Linked DNA regions of Homo sapiens. The protein of the gene in region 1 interacts with the protein of each later gene in a pairwise test. Each region holds a gene or a part of one and is shown on either strand. Other genes may lie near its edges.

The links.
Region 2: the proteins of CFAP298 (region 1) and RPH3A interact in a two-hybrid assay, tested with the Homo sapiens proteins (one large-scale study listed by BioGRID and IntAct).
Region 3: the proteins of CFAP298 (region 1) and FMN2 interact in a two-hybrid assay, tested with the Homo sapiens proteins (one large-scale study listed by BioGRID and IntAct).
Region 4: the proteins of CFAP298 (region 1) and TRPS1 interact in a two-hybrid assay, tested with the Homo sapiens proteins (one large-scale study listed by BioGRID and IntAct).
Region 5: the proteins of CFAP298 (region 1) and SPTBN4 interact in a two-hybrid assay, tested with the Homo sapiens proteins (one large-scale study listed by BioGRID and IntAct).

Annotation. Positions count from the first base shown.
Region 1 is NC_000021.9:32,598,834-32,602,377, forward strand, and holds the end of CFAP298 (cilia- and flagella-associated protein 298), read right to left. Parts: exon of another isoform or gene 3,535-3,544; coding exon 3,439-3,534; coding exon of another isoform or gene 3,391-3,438; exon of another isoform or gene 3,141-3,390; coding exon 3,030-3,140; 3' UTR 521-3,029; downstream 1-520. UniProt on the Homo sapiens protein: Plays a role in motile cilium function, possibly by acting on outer dynein arm assembly. Seems to be important for initiation rather than maintenance of cilium motility.
Region 2 is NC_000012.12:112,871,739-112,875,258, reverse strand, and holds part of RPH3A (rabphilin-3A), read right to left. Parts: intron 2,692-3,520; exon of another isoform or gene 1,101-2,691; intron 475-1,100; exon of another isoform or gene 302-474; intron 176-301; coding exon 89-175; intron 1-88. UniProt on the Homo sapiens protein: Plays an essential role in docking and fusion steps of regulated exocytosis.
Region 3 is NC_000001.11:240,094,882-240,098,401, forward strand, and holds part of FMN2 (formin-2), read left to right. Parts: intron 1-3,520. UniProt on the Homo sapiens protein: Actin-binding protein that is involved in actin cytoskeleton assembly and reorganization. Acts as an actin nucleation factor and promotes assembly of actin filaments together with SPIRE1 and SPIRE2.
Region 4 is NC_000008.11:115,658,970-115,662,489, forward strand, and holds part of TRPS1 (zinc finger transcription factor Trps1), read right to left. Parts: intron 1-3,520. UniProt on the Homo sapiens protein: Transcriptional repressor. Binds specifically to GATA sequences and represses expression of GATA-regulated genes at selected sites and stages in vertebrate development. Regulates chondrocyte proliferation and differentiation.
Region 5 is NC_000019.10:40,473,501-40,477,020, forward strand, and holds part of SPTBN4 (spectrin beta chain, non-erythrocytic 4), read left to right. Parts: intron 1-3,520.

The DNA.
Region 1 (3,544 bases):
ACCTTGGGCAATTTAATCCCTCTGGACTTTGGTTTCCTAACTCGTGAGATGACAATAGTAGTTTCTTTCTAATTTGGCTGTTTTTAGGTATAAACGAAAAGAATATATAGGTAAAGTGCTTAGTACAACCGTCTGGGAAATAGCAAAGTCCCCATAATGCCAGCTGCCGTTACTGTTATGTCTAGTATCGAACTTCTCCTGGAAATCAGCCACCTCTCTCCTTGAGCCCTGTCCAGGGCCAGTGGGTTTTTGGTAGTGTAGAGGGGCAACTCCTATCTTGCAAGGAACGGCAAGAGGTCGGGGCAAGCAGCTCTCTCTGGTCACTTCTTCAAGGGGGTGGTTGCTGAGGCTTTGGAAGGGAATTTAGTGAGCTCAGACCCTCTCAAGGCTACTGTGCTCCAAGTATGTGGCAGTTCATTTCAAGCTTGATGGCACACTCTTTGCAGAGCAGTTGCCAAGGAACGAGGTAATCTTGTGACAGAAATACTGCCTGATGCTGTCAGTTTGATGGTCGAAAAGGTTTTAGGTGGTATCAAATTTTATTACTAGCATTCCTGGTCTCCATGAAAGAACCACATAAGAAGACAAGTTATGTCAAAGGACAAAACCACAGACCTAGATGGGCACCGTGCATACAGCAGACACTTGGTTTCCTTTTGATATTGACTCAAACAGGGACTGGATTAAAAAAAGAAGAAAATAACAACAAGACCACAGACTTAAGCTGATCAGTGGTCTAACACTGGCAAGATTACTTTTGTTGATAAATTGATTTCTTGGGAAATCCTGGGAAAGTTCCTGGACGTGACCCTGTGGTCCTACCACCACTAGCTACCTGTGACCTTGGGTGAGTCAGCAAGTGGATGCAAAGGGAACACACACAGCACGGTGCCACAGCGGGCACCACCTGCCCCCCGCCGTCACAGATGGCTTGCAAATAAGCTACTCACGTACTTCCTGAGATCTGCTGCACCCAAACACACCAAGCTCAGAGAGGCTTTTGAGGCAGACAAGGGCAGGGAGAGAGGATGGTTCTTCTCGCATGGGTATTTAAGGAGTGTAGTGTCATGCGTGAGTGACTTTTTGGTTAGTAAGTTCTGCTGATTACATGAAGCAATGGGATAACTATCACGGCCAAAAGAGTATTCCTACTGCAGGCTCAGTAAGACTTTCTAATGATATTGAAGTAGTAGTTCCCTGAAAAGAGCTACTATGATCACATGGCTTGGTTAACTGTTTCTTACAAGTCTGAGCATGAATTTAACACACACGAACTATACACTGACAAAGACAGGATGCTCCTGAAATAAAATCACAGCATCTTATTGCATATACTACATCATCCAAGGTCAAAACCCTTTCATAGAGACATTTAAAACTATAACCAAGTAAAAGAGAAAATAGATGCAAATTTGCTTTTACAAAATTTGAAAATCAACCAAAAGAGTAAGGCACAAGATGCAGTCAGCTACAAAGCACTTCAGAGAACAGCGCTTTGCTCTCAGGTCTGGGACCCACCCCCTGGGCAAGGCCGCCTGGCAGCAGGCAGGAACCAAACCCCTGCCACCTCCACTCACTCCCAGGGTTCCTCTTTGCAGGATGGTGGGGAGCGCAGGCACCAAGGCAGGAAGGCCAGGGCAGGAAGATGCCCCGCGTCCTTCACTTTCCCTCAGTGTGAGCACACCAAGTTCCCTCTAACCAGGAGAACAGGACCCTAGGCACCAAAAGTCAAGCATGAGGGACTGCCACAGGCAGTCTGGCAGGTGTCTTTCAGATGCTAAAGTGCCAGGGTTTGCAGGATACTTGGATGGTTTACAGTGATGATGAGTTGGAGTCTTTAAACTCAATGGTGTCCTAGATACTCAGTTAGGATGATAGTGATCCCATCCATCCCGTGGTTGGTCACTGAGCTGCGTACGAAGCTGGCCTAGAATCAGACCCCGCATCCATAGGGAGAAATCATCACCCTCTACCGGGATCTGGATTTGTTTTCAGGATCTATTCTCATGAAGGAGACTTGAGAAGCTGAGAAACTCCAGAAGAATTTAAGTTTCAAAGTCAGATGAGTTTGCTACTCAACCTTCATCATGGTTGTAGCTTTCGCTCCCAGAATACAAGGCCAGAGAGGCACCAACCAGGAGGCAAACTTCACCTTCAAGGCCAGGCAACGCCTGGCTACAGTTAGACCCCGCAGCAGGGTTAAAGAAGGCTACAGTTAGACCCCGCAGCAGGGTTAAAGAAGGCTACAGTTAGACCCCGCAGCAGGGTTAGAGAAGTCTCTCCAGCAAGGCTGGGAGTTCAGCTTCCAATAGATCTAGAGGGCCAGGAGAAAAAGCATGCTGAGTGCCTGGCGGCATCTAGTGGTCACTAGTGGTCACTGCCAGTCATCAGCTTTCCTCCAATAAACCAGTTATCATGAGAATATAAAACAATCAGGAAGAAAAAAAAGTGTAGCTTTTTTTTTTTTTTTTTTTTTTTTTGAGACAAGAGTTTCGCTCTGTTGCCCAGGATAGAGTGCAGTGGCAGTGATCTTGGCTCACTGTAAGCTCCACCTCCCGGGTTCACGCCATTCTCCTGCCTCAGCCTCCCGAGTAGCTGGGACTACAGGCGCCTGCCACCATGCCCGGCTAATTTTTTGTATTTTTAGTAGAGACGGGGTTTCACCGTGTTAGCCTGGATGGTCTTGATCTCCTGACCTCGTGATCTGCCTGCCTCGGCCTCCCAAAGTGCTGGGATTACAGGCGTGAGCCACCGCGCCCGGCCAAAAGTTTAGTATTTTATCAAAGAAAACCATGACATACTAAATAGTCCTGAAACAAAAACGATTTACACATTTTCTTCTGACTAGGTATTTATTAAGTTCTAAAACCTTGAATAACTGCTATTTTAAAAATTCACACTAAAAGAAAACTAGAAATGTTAACATCTTTTACAGAGGGCAGTAAGTGGCCTTTTTTTTTTTTTTAAATTATAATTGCCTAGGAGAAAGGTGAGCTAATCTCTTTGGAAGTGTCATCAGCTGGTGAACTTCATCTTGGTCTCCACTTTATGTCTTTCACTCCATGAAAATGTCTTTTCAAAGCAGTGTTATCCGCCCATGGTGAGTTTAAATAGGCATCATCATCATTTTCTTCCAATCTCTGGAAATAAGTATGTTTTATTCAGGCAGGCATTTCAGGAAAGTGTTTTGCACATAAAGAGACTGAAGAAAGAGTCCATGACTGACCTCCCCCTCTCCCTGCCCTCTAGGAGCAGGATACTGCCATGTCTAACACCAGGGGACACCTGGCAGGACCCCGACAGACCTGCAGACAGAAGCTCTAGAAAGACCCCTCCCCGGCATTCTGCAGAGCTCACTGCTCCCCAGCAGCCCCAGGTAAGGCACACAGGCTATGTGTGGGCGCCAGCACTGCAGAAAGCCCATCTGTCCCCTGCTACCTTGAGCTCCTCTTGTCTTCTGTGATAGTACAGCATCAGCTGCTTCTGCTCCTCACTGCTAATAATAGGCTCTCGGGCTGGAGCTCCCTGTCCCCTCTGCAAAGAG
Region 2 (3,520 bases), on another chromosome or scaffold:
CAGCATGCTCTGCAAGCAGGGATGGGAGGTATGAGGGTCACAGCCGAGTGACAGCCTGGGCAGGTGCTAGCAGGTGAGTGGCAGGTACCTGGCTGCCCAGGCTGAGGTGGCGCTGGGCTCTGCACCGAGCCTGGGGCAGGTCTGGAGGCCTGGACTGAGTTGGCCCGTCTCAAACCTGCAGAGGAAAGAAAAGAAAACAGCCATTATGTGTCACACACACACACACAGCAGGAAGGAGCTTGGGACCACTCAGCTGGTGTGGGGTGAGCCCCTTGGACTTTCACTGGAGGCAGCTCCTCACTCGCTCAGCTCTTTCTGACTCTTCTGCCTTCAGTGTGTTCTTTCTTCTCAATACTCAGACTCTGGTGAGTCACAGCAGCAGCAGTTGTTAAAAAGCACAGGTTCTACAATCCTCCTTCCACCTGTGTGACGTTGCTCAAGTGACCTGTCCTCTCTGGGCCTCAGTTTCCTCACCTGGTATATGGAGATAATCACTTAGCTGATAGAGTTGTGGGGAAGATACAATGACACAAACAGGCAATGCTCAGAACAGTGCTTGGCATGTACTAAAGACTCGACACATGACAGGTGGTGAGATTATTTTATTATTATTGAAAGAATGTGTCTCTATCTTCATATGGACTTGGCTTTGCCTTCCTGCTGTTTCCCATATGGCCTGTGTGACCCTGGGCTGGATACTCATCCTCTCTGAACCTTAGATGCCCCATGGAGGCAACAGTTCCACTTAACTCATAATGATAATGAATTCATACTTATTTAGTGCTTACCATGTGCCCTGGACTTTACATATAAGAACTTCTTTAATTTCTACTAATAACCTTATGGGGTGGGGCCTTATGATCTCCATTTTATAGATGGGGAAACTGAGGCACAGAGAAGTTACTGAGCTCATCTAATGTCTCTTGGCTGGTTACTGCAGAGCCAGGGTTTGAACGCTGGCAGTTGGCCTCTGGAATCTGTGCCAGAGACCCTTACATGCTGTTGTTTCCCAGAGAGGGACTGAATGGAATGATGTGTGCAGCAGTTTCTGGTACCCAGAAGGTGTGATGTTCTGGGAAGAAAGCCCTGCTTTTTCTTACCTCACTGGGCTAGATGCCATCTTTCCTGAATCCAGCACTTTTGGCTGGATGGATGCTTGAATACACATAACAAAAGGTGCTTTACCACCTCTGCCTGGGGGCTTACAAATCACCAAGTCTTGTCCCAGGTTCCCACATTAGCACTGCCATTTGTTTGTTCACTTGAGGCCCTGTTCATTTGTCCATTCATTCATTTGTTCATTCAACAAGCATCCAGTGGGTGTCTACCAAGTGCCAATCCCTGTGCTAAGATGAACAAAACACCATCTTATATCCTCCAGGAGTGCACAGCCCAGTCACAGGAAGGAGACAGACACTGAAATGATGAGTTTATGATGCAACAATACCCAACAGTCATTGAGTTCTTCAAATGCACCAGGCCTTGAACATCGCCTCATGGAAGCTTCACAACTCAATGCCATGCATGGTATTGTGCTCCCCATTTTGCAGTTGAGGTAGTGGGGGTTAAATATGCCCAAGGTCACATAACCAGGAAGCCCCGAAGGTAGGACTTCTGTCCAAATCTATCTCAGATCTTGTTGAATGTGTAAATCACACCTGAAGCCCATCAACAATAGAATAAGCCGCTCCAAGAGGTAGGGAGACAGAGAGTATGTGGGTGATCAAAAGCCTTTCAGAGACCTCTGAAGGGATTTCCACACTGTGTGTGAGGGAGGACTCTGAGATTCCAGGATTAAGCCCTGGAACAAGGGAGTTTTACTGGGAATTTGTTTTACTGAGCTGCTCTCAGTCCCTCAAGTGGAACTTGTAACAGACCAGCTAGGAGCATTGGCTCTGCACGTGAACTGCCTGGGTTAAACACTAGCCCTGCTATTACTTTTATGTGACCTTGAGATTGTTTTAGCCTCTCTTTGCTGCATCTATTATGTGAAGATGACTACAATAGTACCTATCCAAAAAGAGCTGTGGATTGGATCAGTATGACCCATGCAAAGGGTTTAATCACATACCCGGCAGAGAGTAGATGCTCAATAAGTTTAAGTTGTTATTATGATTATTAATTCAAATCTGTAAGTATTTGAGAGCCTATAATCAACTAAGAATCTTAGTATAGGCTGGAAAATGATGAGCAAGAGATAAAATTATGGTAGATGCTCCAAATATTTGGAAACATAATAAATTAATGGAGAGAGACATGTCCCTGGTATTACAAGGGAGAGAGATTCAGGCTATAATGCTTTAGACAGTGATAAGTCCTGCATTAGGGCTGCGTCTCACCACCCTGGGAGCTCAGAGAAGGTAGCAGCTAACCCAACTCAAGGTGGAGCAGGTGGATGCTAGAAGCTAGACAAGACGAATATTTACATTGACTCCTGAGGGACAGGGGATTCAAATCCAGTTCAGAAATGTCCTATGACTGTCTTTGTCCTCAGAAGACAAAATAATATAGACGTTAAAAGCAGGATTTGATATGTGGAAATTAACTCAAAATGAATCAAAGACCCAAATATAAGGGCTAAAACTATAAAACTCTTAGAAGAAAACATAAAGGAACTTCTTCATGATCTTAGATTAGGCAATGATTTCTTAGATATGACACTAAAAACATAGGCAAGAAAAGAAAAAGAAAAGAAACTGGGCTTCATCAAAATAAAAGCCTTCTTTGCATCAAATGACACTATAAAAGAGTGAAAAAACAACCCATGAAATAAGAGAAAAATGTGTAAATTATATATCTGATAAGACATTAATATCCAGAATATATAAAGAACTTCTATGACTCAACAACAAAAGACAAACTATCCAGTTTAAAATGTGTTCAAAGGACTTGAATAGCTGTGTCTCCAGGGAAAATATCCAAATGGCCAAAAGCACAAGAAAAGATGCTCAGTATCACTAATCATAGGGAAATGCAAGTCAAAACCACAAGGAGATGCCACTTCACACCACTGGGATGACTTATTAAAAACAAAAACAAAACCCAGAGAATAACAAATATTGGTGAGGACATGGAGAAATGAGAACCCTTTTGCATTGTTGGTGGGAATCTAAAAATGTCTCAGCCACCATGGAAAACGGAATGGTGGTTCCTCAAAAAATTAAACACAGAATTACCATATGATCCAGCAACTTCACTTATAGGTATATACTCAAAAGAACAGAGTGCAACAGATATTTGTATGTCAGGCGCACAATGACATCATTTACAACAGCTAAAAGGTTGAAATAAACCAAACTCCCACTGATGGGTGAATGGATAAACAGAATGTAGTATATATAATATATATATACACACACACCACTATATATATGTATATATACATGTATATACATATACACCACTATATATAGTATATGCACTGTGTGTATATACACTATATGTATATAATATATAACGTATACTGTATATTGTATATTTTATATTATATATACTGTTTCTATATATTCTATTGTATATA
Region 3 (3,520 bases), on another chromosome or scaffold:
TGGGGTAGCTACTTTTATTGACCACATTTTAATTTTCATCTGTGGGCCACCTTTTATTTTGCCCTTATAGGGTCTTACCCTTAAAAGTAGCTTCTTCCATTCATTTCACATACTCTTATTTTTCTTCTTTTCCACCTTCTCTTTATTGTGTAGATTGTTAAAAAGAATGTTTGTAGTTTTATACCCACTAGATAAATTGTAAAAAAACAAAAACAAAATGCAAAACAAATAAAAAAGAAAGATCACTTTTGATAGAAGAAGATTGGAAAGTTTTTGCATTAATTTTTGTGAATTTAATGTTGGTAAGAAATCACATATTTTCTCTTTATCTAAGTGACATTCACGTATATAGTTTTTGAAAAGTGAAAATAATTCACCATAATGATTATCAATCATTAATATTAATGATAGCTATTCCTACTAGCATAAGACTTTGGAAATTTATTTATTTCATTCATTTAGCAAATATATATATGTATATACATTTGTAAGCATATATGTGCATACACACACACACACACACACACACATTGAGCAGCCACATTGTGCTAGGCAGTATTCTAAATAGTAGCACACTGTGCTAGGCAGTATTCTAGATGTAGGTGATACATAGACCATTAAATCATGATTTTGCCTTTCTAAGGCTCGCTGACTAGTGAGGAGGAGACATGACATAAGTGCAGTGCACAGAAATATCTGTATAGATATAGACATGCAAATCACTGCTGGGAACATCACGGATGCAGTGGCTTATCTGCTTGGTGGCAAGGGGTGAGGGAAGAGGACTTGAGAGAGGAGGATTGAACAGAGTCCTGGAAGATCACAAGACCCTAAATAGGTTGAATGTTTGTTTTCCTTTAAAAAAACAAGTGTCTTCTTGGAACTTGCATTTTAGTTTAATTTGCTAAGTATTCCCAAATTTGAAATTTGGGACTCTTAAAAGAGTCCTGTATAGGAACCACCTGGGTTTTGTTGACCTCTCCAGGTGATTTGTTTTTTAAATTGTGCAAAGTAAAATTGCAGAGCTAGTCGTTTTTATAAGGACATCACCTATTTTGTATTTGATGGTTGGATACAGCTGGTTGGTAATCAGCAAATATATTTTTGTGTAGCAGCTTCCGTATGTTTATGTCATTCACTCAGCATTGTTCAGGAAAAGAGGATCAGTAGGTTTTACCTAACTTTGTAACTGGTGGGAAAATGTAGATAGAGAAAGAGGTGAAATAACTTTCTCAAGGTCACACTGTGATTCATTCAGAGGCAGATCCAGAAATAGAAACTGAGTCAATGAATCAAGTCTAATGTCATTATTATTTCTGTTTGGATATACAATGTTTTAAGGCCATATAGAGAGTAAAAACTGTTTATAAAAAATGTGATCAGATTTAGGGCCTTTCTTTAATTAGATTTTCCAGTTCCTGTTTTTAATAAGGTGTCCTCCTTTAATGGTTGAACATCTGGCCTTCCTTGAGCTGGATGAAGGGTGATTGTTGGCCAGAGTGAACCAGATTTTCTCTAAGCAGCTCTCATGGAAACTGTTCTTATGGTGGTCAAATGAATCCAGATTGACACAGGCCCTTGTGTCTCAGCTGTCAACTCTTCATGTCATCTGCCACTACGTTTGCTTCTTTACTCTCCTCTGCTATTTTTTTACGGGTGTCTTGGAAATTACCAGAGGCTTGGGGAACACTGGCATTGTCCTTAGGGAAATTTCTTTTTGGCCTTAATTTTGCATGTATTTGGATCAATTAATTGCCAGCTGCCTTTGAAGCAGGTGATCATTATATCTATAAGCTTCCATAAGCATCTTTTATTTTTAAACCATAGAATGAGGGTTGTCAGCATTACAGGAAGAAACAGATGTTTTTCGCTTTTTACCGCCTTCCAAATGTAGGGAGAAAATACAAGTGAAAAGGGATTTCTATGGCACATGTCTGTGTCTCTTTGGTAGATCTAAAAACATTTAGCAATGAGGGAGACCAAACTTTATCTTGTTTTAGCTATTAAGAAACTGATGATGCCTTAGGCCATTGCATTTAAGTATTTCATAATTAATGTGTTTGAAATACATCTTTTTCAGTGTTTAGTAGAAAAAATGGCGTCTGAAATTCGGGAGGTTCCTTTACATATTAAGTATAACAGAAGCTTGGTACTGGAGTTTTGCAGTTAATTAAAGTTTAGATATCCAACGTGTTAAATTTGTGATGCTAAATCGCTTTTGATAGGAATCTTTCCCAAGTCAATTATGTGCTTATCTTTTTTTTTAAACACATGGAATAAAAGTTTAATCTGTTTTAAAGGGCTTAATGTCATCTTCAGGCACATCATTGTTACATCTTATAAAAACATTAGTGATGTCCTCAACAGCTATTGAAGTGTGTGGGCTGTTGGCTTCAGTCTGTAGTTTCTGAGTTTTTGTGTCTGTGTAGTTTCTTGATTGTTTTCTTGCTGCCAGCTATTTATTGTTATAGCTGCCTTTTTTTTTTTTTTTTGAGACAGAGTCTCGCTCTGTTGCCCAGGCTGGAGTGCAGTGGCACGACTTCTGCTCACTGCAAGCTCCGCCTCCTGAGTTCACGCCATTCTCCTGCCTCAGCCTCCTGAGTAGCTGGGACTACAGGCGCCCACCACCATGCCCAGCTAATTTTTTGTATTTTTAGTACAGACGGGGTTTCACCGTGTTAGCCAGGATGGTCTTGATCTCCTGACCTCGTGATCCGCCCGCCTCGGCCGCCCAAAGTGCTGGGATTACAGGCGTGAGCCACCGCGCCCGGCTATAGCTGTCTTTAGTCTCTTTGCTCCTGTCCCTCAATTTTTTTGTAATTTGACTTTTCTGATCAATTTGCAATTGGCTTACAATTCCTGTAATTATGATATTGGTTACACTTATTGTACTTCTAAGTGCCAGACTCTGTTGGTGCATTACATAACTATCTGTAATCCTTAACAACAGTCTTGAGGTGTAGCTGTTTATCCTCATTTTTCGAATGAAAAAACCCAGGCTCAGACAGTAAAGTAACTTCTTGTCTAAGGGCATTAAGCTAGTAAGTGGCCCATCCAGGATATGTCCTTAGAAAACCAAATCTGTTGTTAATATGTATAAGATGAAACCAAGTAGATCATTGAGCTTTTGGAGGACTAGCTAATTAATAAAGTGCATAGGCTCTAGAACTTGGATTGTGCAACTCTGATTTTGGCCTTTCTAAAGGTTATCTTGAATTTTTTTTTTTTTTTTTTTTTGGAGACAGATTTCACTCTTGTCGCCAAGGCTGGAATGAAGTGGCGTGATCTTGGCTCACTGCAACCTCCGCCCACTGGGTTCAAGCAATTCTCCTGCCTCAGCTTCCAGAGTAGCTGGGATTATAGGCGCCCATGACCACACCCAGCTAATTTTTGTATTTTTAGTAGAGACAGGATTTCACCATGTAGGCCAGGCTGGTCTTGAACTCCTGACCTCAGGTGTTCTATCTGCCTTGGCCTCCCCAAGTGCTAGGAGGCCTATCTTGATTTTTATATCAGTAGA
Region 4 (3,520 bases), on another chromosome or scaffold:
AAAATATGTTATAAATAATGAGGGCATTCCTTCAAAAGCACAAGTTTTCTTAAAAACGGGACTTTAAAAATAGAATAAACAGTGATGGGATAGAGTAAAATAGTTTATTATAATTGAGGTTTAGATGACAGTGAGTTTCTTACAGTAATTTACCACATCATACATCCAAAGAATGTAATTCAAATGCATTATAAATACAAAGGAGAAACATCTCTTAGTGTTGGTTTATAAGCTACAGAAAATAGTATTTCATATTTTTCAATCCTTGAATGTGTAACTACTTACTGACTACTTGTAAATTATTTTCTAAAACTTCCCTAAGTTTGCAGAACTGAGGAGCAAATTTTGCAATAATCTTCTAAAAAGGTATACTTCCAATATTAATTTAAAGACAGCTTAACATATTCCGTATTTTTTAATTTATAATTTAAATATAATTACTAATATAAAAATTCAGCAGCCAAACACAGGTAAAACATATCATTTTAAAAGATCTCAAAGGTATATCAAAAAATAATCGATAAAGAATTATGAATCATACAACAAAGAGATGAATATGTATTGAAAAATTTAGTAATATGGGCCTTGATTAAAATTAATATATATATGACCTGTCTTAACTTGGCATCAAAAAGCAAAGCAAAAACAAATACAAAACTTTCTTTTAGGAACTTTTATATGTTCAGAGCTACTTAAGAGTATTGAGAGAAAATGGGCTGATGTATTTTATTTCCACATCTTGCAAAGCTAAAGATGATGTGCAGATAATGACATCACAAAGTAGGCACAAGTAGAATTTGGTTTTTAATTTGTTTTGTCTATCATGCTCTCATTTCAGAACCAAAATTACAATTAAATTAACCCTCAAATAGGTGTTGGGATGCATTAAGTAATTAAAATGGGCATTACAAAGACTAAAGTCATTTCAAAAAATATGCAATATGCTAAAATTCCATGTAGTGCCTGTAATGTAAAAACATTCTAAGCAAGTGAGACTATAGCTATCCTGCATGTACATGTACGCACTTATTTAATATGAAGCCACAAATTCATATATTCCACTTCTGCATAGCTCAGAGAGCAAAAGCTAACACTAGATTAGTAATGCTTGATCCCTTTGTACATGAAGTGTATCATGTAATAGAGAAATTAGATTCCACAAACTAATTTCTGCCATATATTTTTACACTATTTATAAACATATCTGATCTTCCATATGATATGTAGAGAAATTGAAATAGCAATTCACATTGTATTGTAGAATCTAATCAGGAAGCACATGTTATATTATTAATGTTTATTGATTTGTAAGCTTTATACATTCTGTCCAAATTCTACAAGTAAAAACAGCTCTGAAATCCTTTTGATCTTTCTTTTTCTACAGCTAAGGTATTTTTAGTGTTTAAATAGCAGTTGATGTCTTATCTATTGTCTTATACGGTACTGGATTCATTCCTGGTTACTATAATACTCAATTTAACAACTAGTAATATTAATGCTTTTTCCAAGCTTGGGACATATATAGCAGATAATATAAACATGTTTACTATGATTTATGATACTATACTACTCACTATCATGAATACAAAGTAATTAACAGATAAAGCTATTATGAACGCAAACAAGAGAACCATGCTCCCCTCAAAAAAGAAAAAAAGAAATGGAACATAAACTGTAAATACTTGTATATTTCCTTCTAACACTATCTAGTATATTAGACAAATAGCTAACAATAAATCATTTGTTTATTCATGTTAAATAAATTTAATATGTACATTAACTTCTGACTTAACTTAAAAGTATATGGAATGTTTTCCAGAGACTATTTTGACTGTGTCAATTACCCTAGATACCAAAGTTGTTGTATTGTGTTGCTTGATGAAATAGGACATAGATCAACCCTCAAAACCAGTATTACAAGCCTGGCAAATAGCATCACATTTGGGTGACGCACAGAATCCATCACCCTAGGGAAAAATGCATTGGGTCATAGTACAGAGTCTTTACATGTTCCATATTATTTCTACATAACGTTTTGAGATGATAGAATTGTAAACTATAAAGTGGTAGCCCATAAAGTGATATACTCACAAACAGTCCTGTCCCTTAACTGCTCCTCTTAACAGAAATGAGACTTAAAAAATGATCTCAGAAGCATTTCTTACAATACACTGAAAGGTGGCATTTTGATTTATAATTTTTTTCATTTAAAAAAATTCCTTAGTAAATTCAGAGCAGATATAAGTATTATGATAACAATTGATTCATTATGTTTAAACTCCATACTCATTTCAAACTTTTAGACTTCATAATGTAGGTCATGTTAACTCCTTAAAAGATTCACATTTCAAGCACAGAGTTAATAGTTAGCATTCTAAATTCCACCATCAAGATGTGTCTAAGTATTATCGGTCTACATACATTCCACATATAAAACACACCTATAATAGCATGCACATATATTGGCAATAATTCAAACATAGCAAAGCTATCGTGAGTACTTCAAACATTTGCAGGCAATTACATTGCTAGAACTCCTCTCATATTATAGGTATCCTATGACAAGCTACTAAAAAATTACACAAATCAAAAAGTGTTACCTTTGTTCAAATAATACTGCTGTTCATTATACAACAGAAAACATCATCCTTAATCTCTCAGGAACCAAGATAGTGGTGGATTCTTGGAGCAGAAGTAGTGCAGAATGGTTTGCGGCAAAATCGAAACATATTGTTTAAGTAAACCTTAAGGGGAGGGGAGCATATGCGCAATTGATGGATTTTTTTTTTTTTTTTTGGTATCATCTTCCACAAAACCTCCCACCAACCCCTCCCCACCACTTACCAGTAAACAATCTGCGATATTAAGGGACTGCAACTCTAAACACCTCCCTTTGCCTTATTTCCTTCTTGCTAAACTTTATTGCTTTTCCTCATTTTTGAAGCAACAAACAAAATTCATTAAATAAAAATTTATTAACAGATGCAGCCATAACATGAAATGTATGTTTGAAAACTTTGTAATAAATAAAATGAATCTAGACTTACTCCAAGAAACTTGCACTATGCTGATGTGAACAACATATACATTAAGTTCCTAAAGTTTTTCCAAACAAATCTTTAACTAAAGAAGCCATAAGCAAAAAAGGAATGCCTACGATTTGAACTAGAGTCTGTAACTCTCGCAAGAAAAACTGAGAAACATATCAAGTAAATCAAAACTGTCAAATTTATAAGCAGAGAACACTTCAATGCCCCAAATTTGCGGAATGCTTTTTATAGTCATAAATGCCTTAAAGACTGTACTCTTCCTTGTGTGACACTTAATTTTCACTATATATATTATTCCTTAAATGTGCTCTAGGTAAAGAAGGAAAAAAAAAATCTATCAGGAAGAATTTGGGTTAAAAGCAAAGTCCACGACAAGTAACCGTAAGATTTAAACCTCAGGAACAATTCACAAAAGAAAAGTCGAAACAGTACTTAGTTCTGAGCCACCGAATGGGGCGGAGGGCCTTCCA
Region 5 (3,520 bases), on another chromosome or scaffold:
GCATGTGCCACCACGCCCAGCTAATTTTGTATTTTTACTAGAGACGGGGTTTCTCCATGTTGGTCAGGCTGGTCTCGAACTCCCAACCTCAGGTGATCCACATGTCTCGGCCTCCCAAAGTGCTGAGATTACAGGCATGAGCCACGGCACCCGGCCTGTTTTAATTAAATTTAAATAGCCACATGTGGCTTGTGACTGCTGTATAGGTCAGCACAGCCTTAGAGCCTTAGAAATGTACAGTCCCAGAATGGTGGGACTCTGTAAGCATATTCCCTTAGAATCCCGAAATGCAGAGCCATCAGATCCTTGGAACTTGAAATGTCTAAGAGATTCTTAGACCTCTTGAAATGAAGACCTCTGGCCTGGCGCGGTGGCTCACGCCTGTAATCCCAGCACTTTGGGAGGCAAAGGTGGACAGATCTCTTGAGTGCAGGAGTTCGAGACCATGTTCGCCAACATAGTGAAACCCTGTCTCTACTAAAAATAAAAATAAAAAAAAAAATTAGCCAGGCGTGGTGGCATGCATCTGTAGTTCCAGCTATTTGGGAGGCTGAGGTGGGAGGATGGCCTGAGACTGTGAGGTGGAGATTGCAGTGAGTCAAGATCGCGCCACTGCACTCCAGCCCCAGCAGTAAAGCAAGAACCTATCTCAAAAAAAAAAAAAAAAAAAAAAAAAAAAGAGCTTTGGAAATGTGAAACGTTATCATCACAGACCTAAGAAATTTTAGTCATTGTTCCCTAGGATCATAGGCCCTTAGAAACTGAAACTGTAATACACAGGAACCTTTGGGACTTGATAATACTAAACCTTTGGAGTTTCCAATTAGAAATGTGGATCTTGAGAAATCTGACATAGAGTGACCAAAACCTTCCTGCTTTTACCACCGAAACTCTCAGCCTTGGGCCAACCAGTACAGTGGGTCACCCTACCATTTTTTTTTTTTTTTTGAGTCAGGGTCTCACTCTTCACCCAGGCTGGAGTGCAGTGGTGTGATCATGGCTCACTGCAGCCTTGAACTCCTGGACTCAAGTGATCCTCCCACCTCAGCCTCCTGAATAGCTGGAACTACAGGCATGCGCCACCATGCCTGGCTAATTAAAAATAATTTTTTTTTTTGGCGAAGCATGGTGGCGGATGCCTGTAATCCCAGCACTTTGGGAGGCTGAGGCGGATGGATCACTTGAGATCAGGAGTTTGAGACCAGCCTGACCAATATGGTGACACTACTAAAAATACAAAAATTAGATGGGTGTGGTGGTGGGCACCTGTAATCTCAGCTACCCAGGAGGCTGAGGCAGGAGAATCACTTGAACCCGGGAGATGGGGGTTTCAGTGAGCTGAGATCACACCATTTCAATCCATCCTAAGTGACAAGAGCTTAACTCCGTCTCAAAACAAAACAAAAAAATTTTTTTGTAAGATGGGGTCTTGCTATGTTGCCCAGGCTGGTGTGGAACTCCTGGGCTAAAATAACCCTCCCACCTCGGCCTCCGAAAGTGCTTTGATTACAGGGGTAAGCCAGAGTGCCTAGTAGTCACCCTACTTTGATGTATCAGAACAATATTAGCAAAGACCAGAGAACTTTATAGTTATAGAAAGACCTTAGACCTTTAGAACTGTAGACCCTTGAACCTTAGTACTTAGTATTCATAGAGGTCTGGAACCTTAGAAGTGTTTAATCATCAGCATTAAAACTGGCAAAGACCCTGAGGAGCCTCAGAGATATGGAACGTCATAATCATAAGCCTTTAAAACATGACACCCTAGCACCTTTGACCCTTGGGACCTTAACATCTTAGAAACACGGAGCGCTAGAATCATAAAATATAGATGATCATAATCATGAATTCTTAAAACCCAAAGGTCAGAATCAGTTCCCTCCAAATCTTAGAACTTTAGTAACTCAGCAGTTTATAATCACAAGATGGATCTCTGATACTAAGATTTTTGGAACTTTATTTATTTATTTATTTATTTGAGGTGGAGTCTCACTCTGTTGCCCAGGCTGGAGTGCAGTGGCGCAATGTCAGCTCACTGCAACCTCCACCTCCCAGGTTCATGAGATTCTCCCGCCTCGGGAGTCCCGAGTAGCTGGGACTACAGGCCCGCACCACCATGCCTGGCTAATTTTTGTATTTTTAATTGAGGCGGGGTTTCACCATGATGGCCAGGCTGGTCTTGAACTCCTGGGCTCGGGCAATCTGCCCACCTTGGCCTCCCAAAATGCTAGGATTACAGGCATGAGCCATGGCGCTGGCTCAAGAAACCTGGCTGATCTAGAAACCTGTAGTCCCAGCACTTTGAGAGGCCGAGGCGGGCGGATCGCTTGAGCCCAGGAGTTCGAGACCAGCCTGGCCAACATGGTGAAACCCCGTCTCTACTAAAAATATAAACATTAGCCAGGTGTGGTGGCGCATGCCTGTAGTTCCAGCTAGTCAACAGGCTGAGGTGGGAGAATCTCCTGAGCCCGGGAAGCAGAGGTTGCAGTGAGCCGAGATTGTGCCACTGCACTCCAGCCTGGGCAACAGGTTGAGACCCTGTCTCAAAACAATAAGAAACCTGGTTAGGCGCGGTAGCTCACGCCTATAATCCCAGCGCTTTGGGAGGCCAAGGTGGGGGGATCACTGGAGGTTGGGTGTTTGAGACCAGCCTGGCCAGCACGGCAAAACCCTGTCTCTATTAAAAATACAAAAATTAGCTGGGTGTGGTGGCGCGTGCCTCTAATCCCAGCTACTCAGGAGGATGAGGCAGGAGAATCGCCTGAACCTCAGAGGCGGAGGTTGCAGTGAGCCTAGATCGTGCCATTGTACTCCAGCCTGGGCGTCAATAGCAAAACTCTGTCTCAAAAAAAAAAAAAAAAAAGAGAGAGAGAGAGAAATCTGTATATGCCACAAAGTATGAACCAGATTCAACTGGTGGATTGCCAGCTTTGTCTGATCTAGAAACCTAGACTGATGAAAACATACACTCATGGAAACTTACAGTCATACTTTTAGAGCCTTAGAACCTTAAAAAGGTAGGAACATATCAACTTAGAATTCTAGAATTTACTAATTTAGTGTAAGTGAGTTTGTTTTTAGTTTTGTTTGTTTGTTTTTGTTTTTGAGAAGGAGTCTTGCTCTGTCGCCCAGGCTGGAGGGCAGTGACACTATCTCGGCTCACTGCAAGCTCCGCCTCCTGGGTTCATGCCATTCTCCTGCCTCAGCCTCCCGAGTAGCTAGGACTACAGGCGCCTGCCACCATGCCCCGCTAATTTTTTGTATTTTTAGCAGAGATGGGGTTTCACTGTGTTAGCCAGGATGGTTTTGATCTCCTGACCGCGTGATCTGCCCGCCTTGGCCTCCCAAAGTGCTGGAATTACAGGCATGAGCCACCGCGCCCGTCCTGTTTTTAGTTTTTGTTTGTTTTTTGAGGAGGAGGGGGTCTCTCCATGTTGCCTAGACAGGTCTCAAACTCCCGGTGTCAACTCATCCTTCTGAGTAGCTGGGATTACAGATGTGTACCACCACTCCCAGCTGT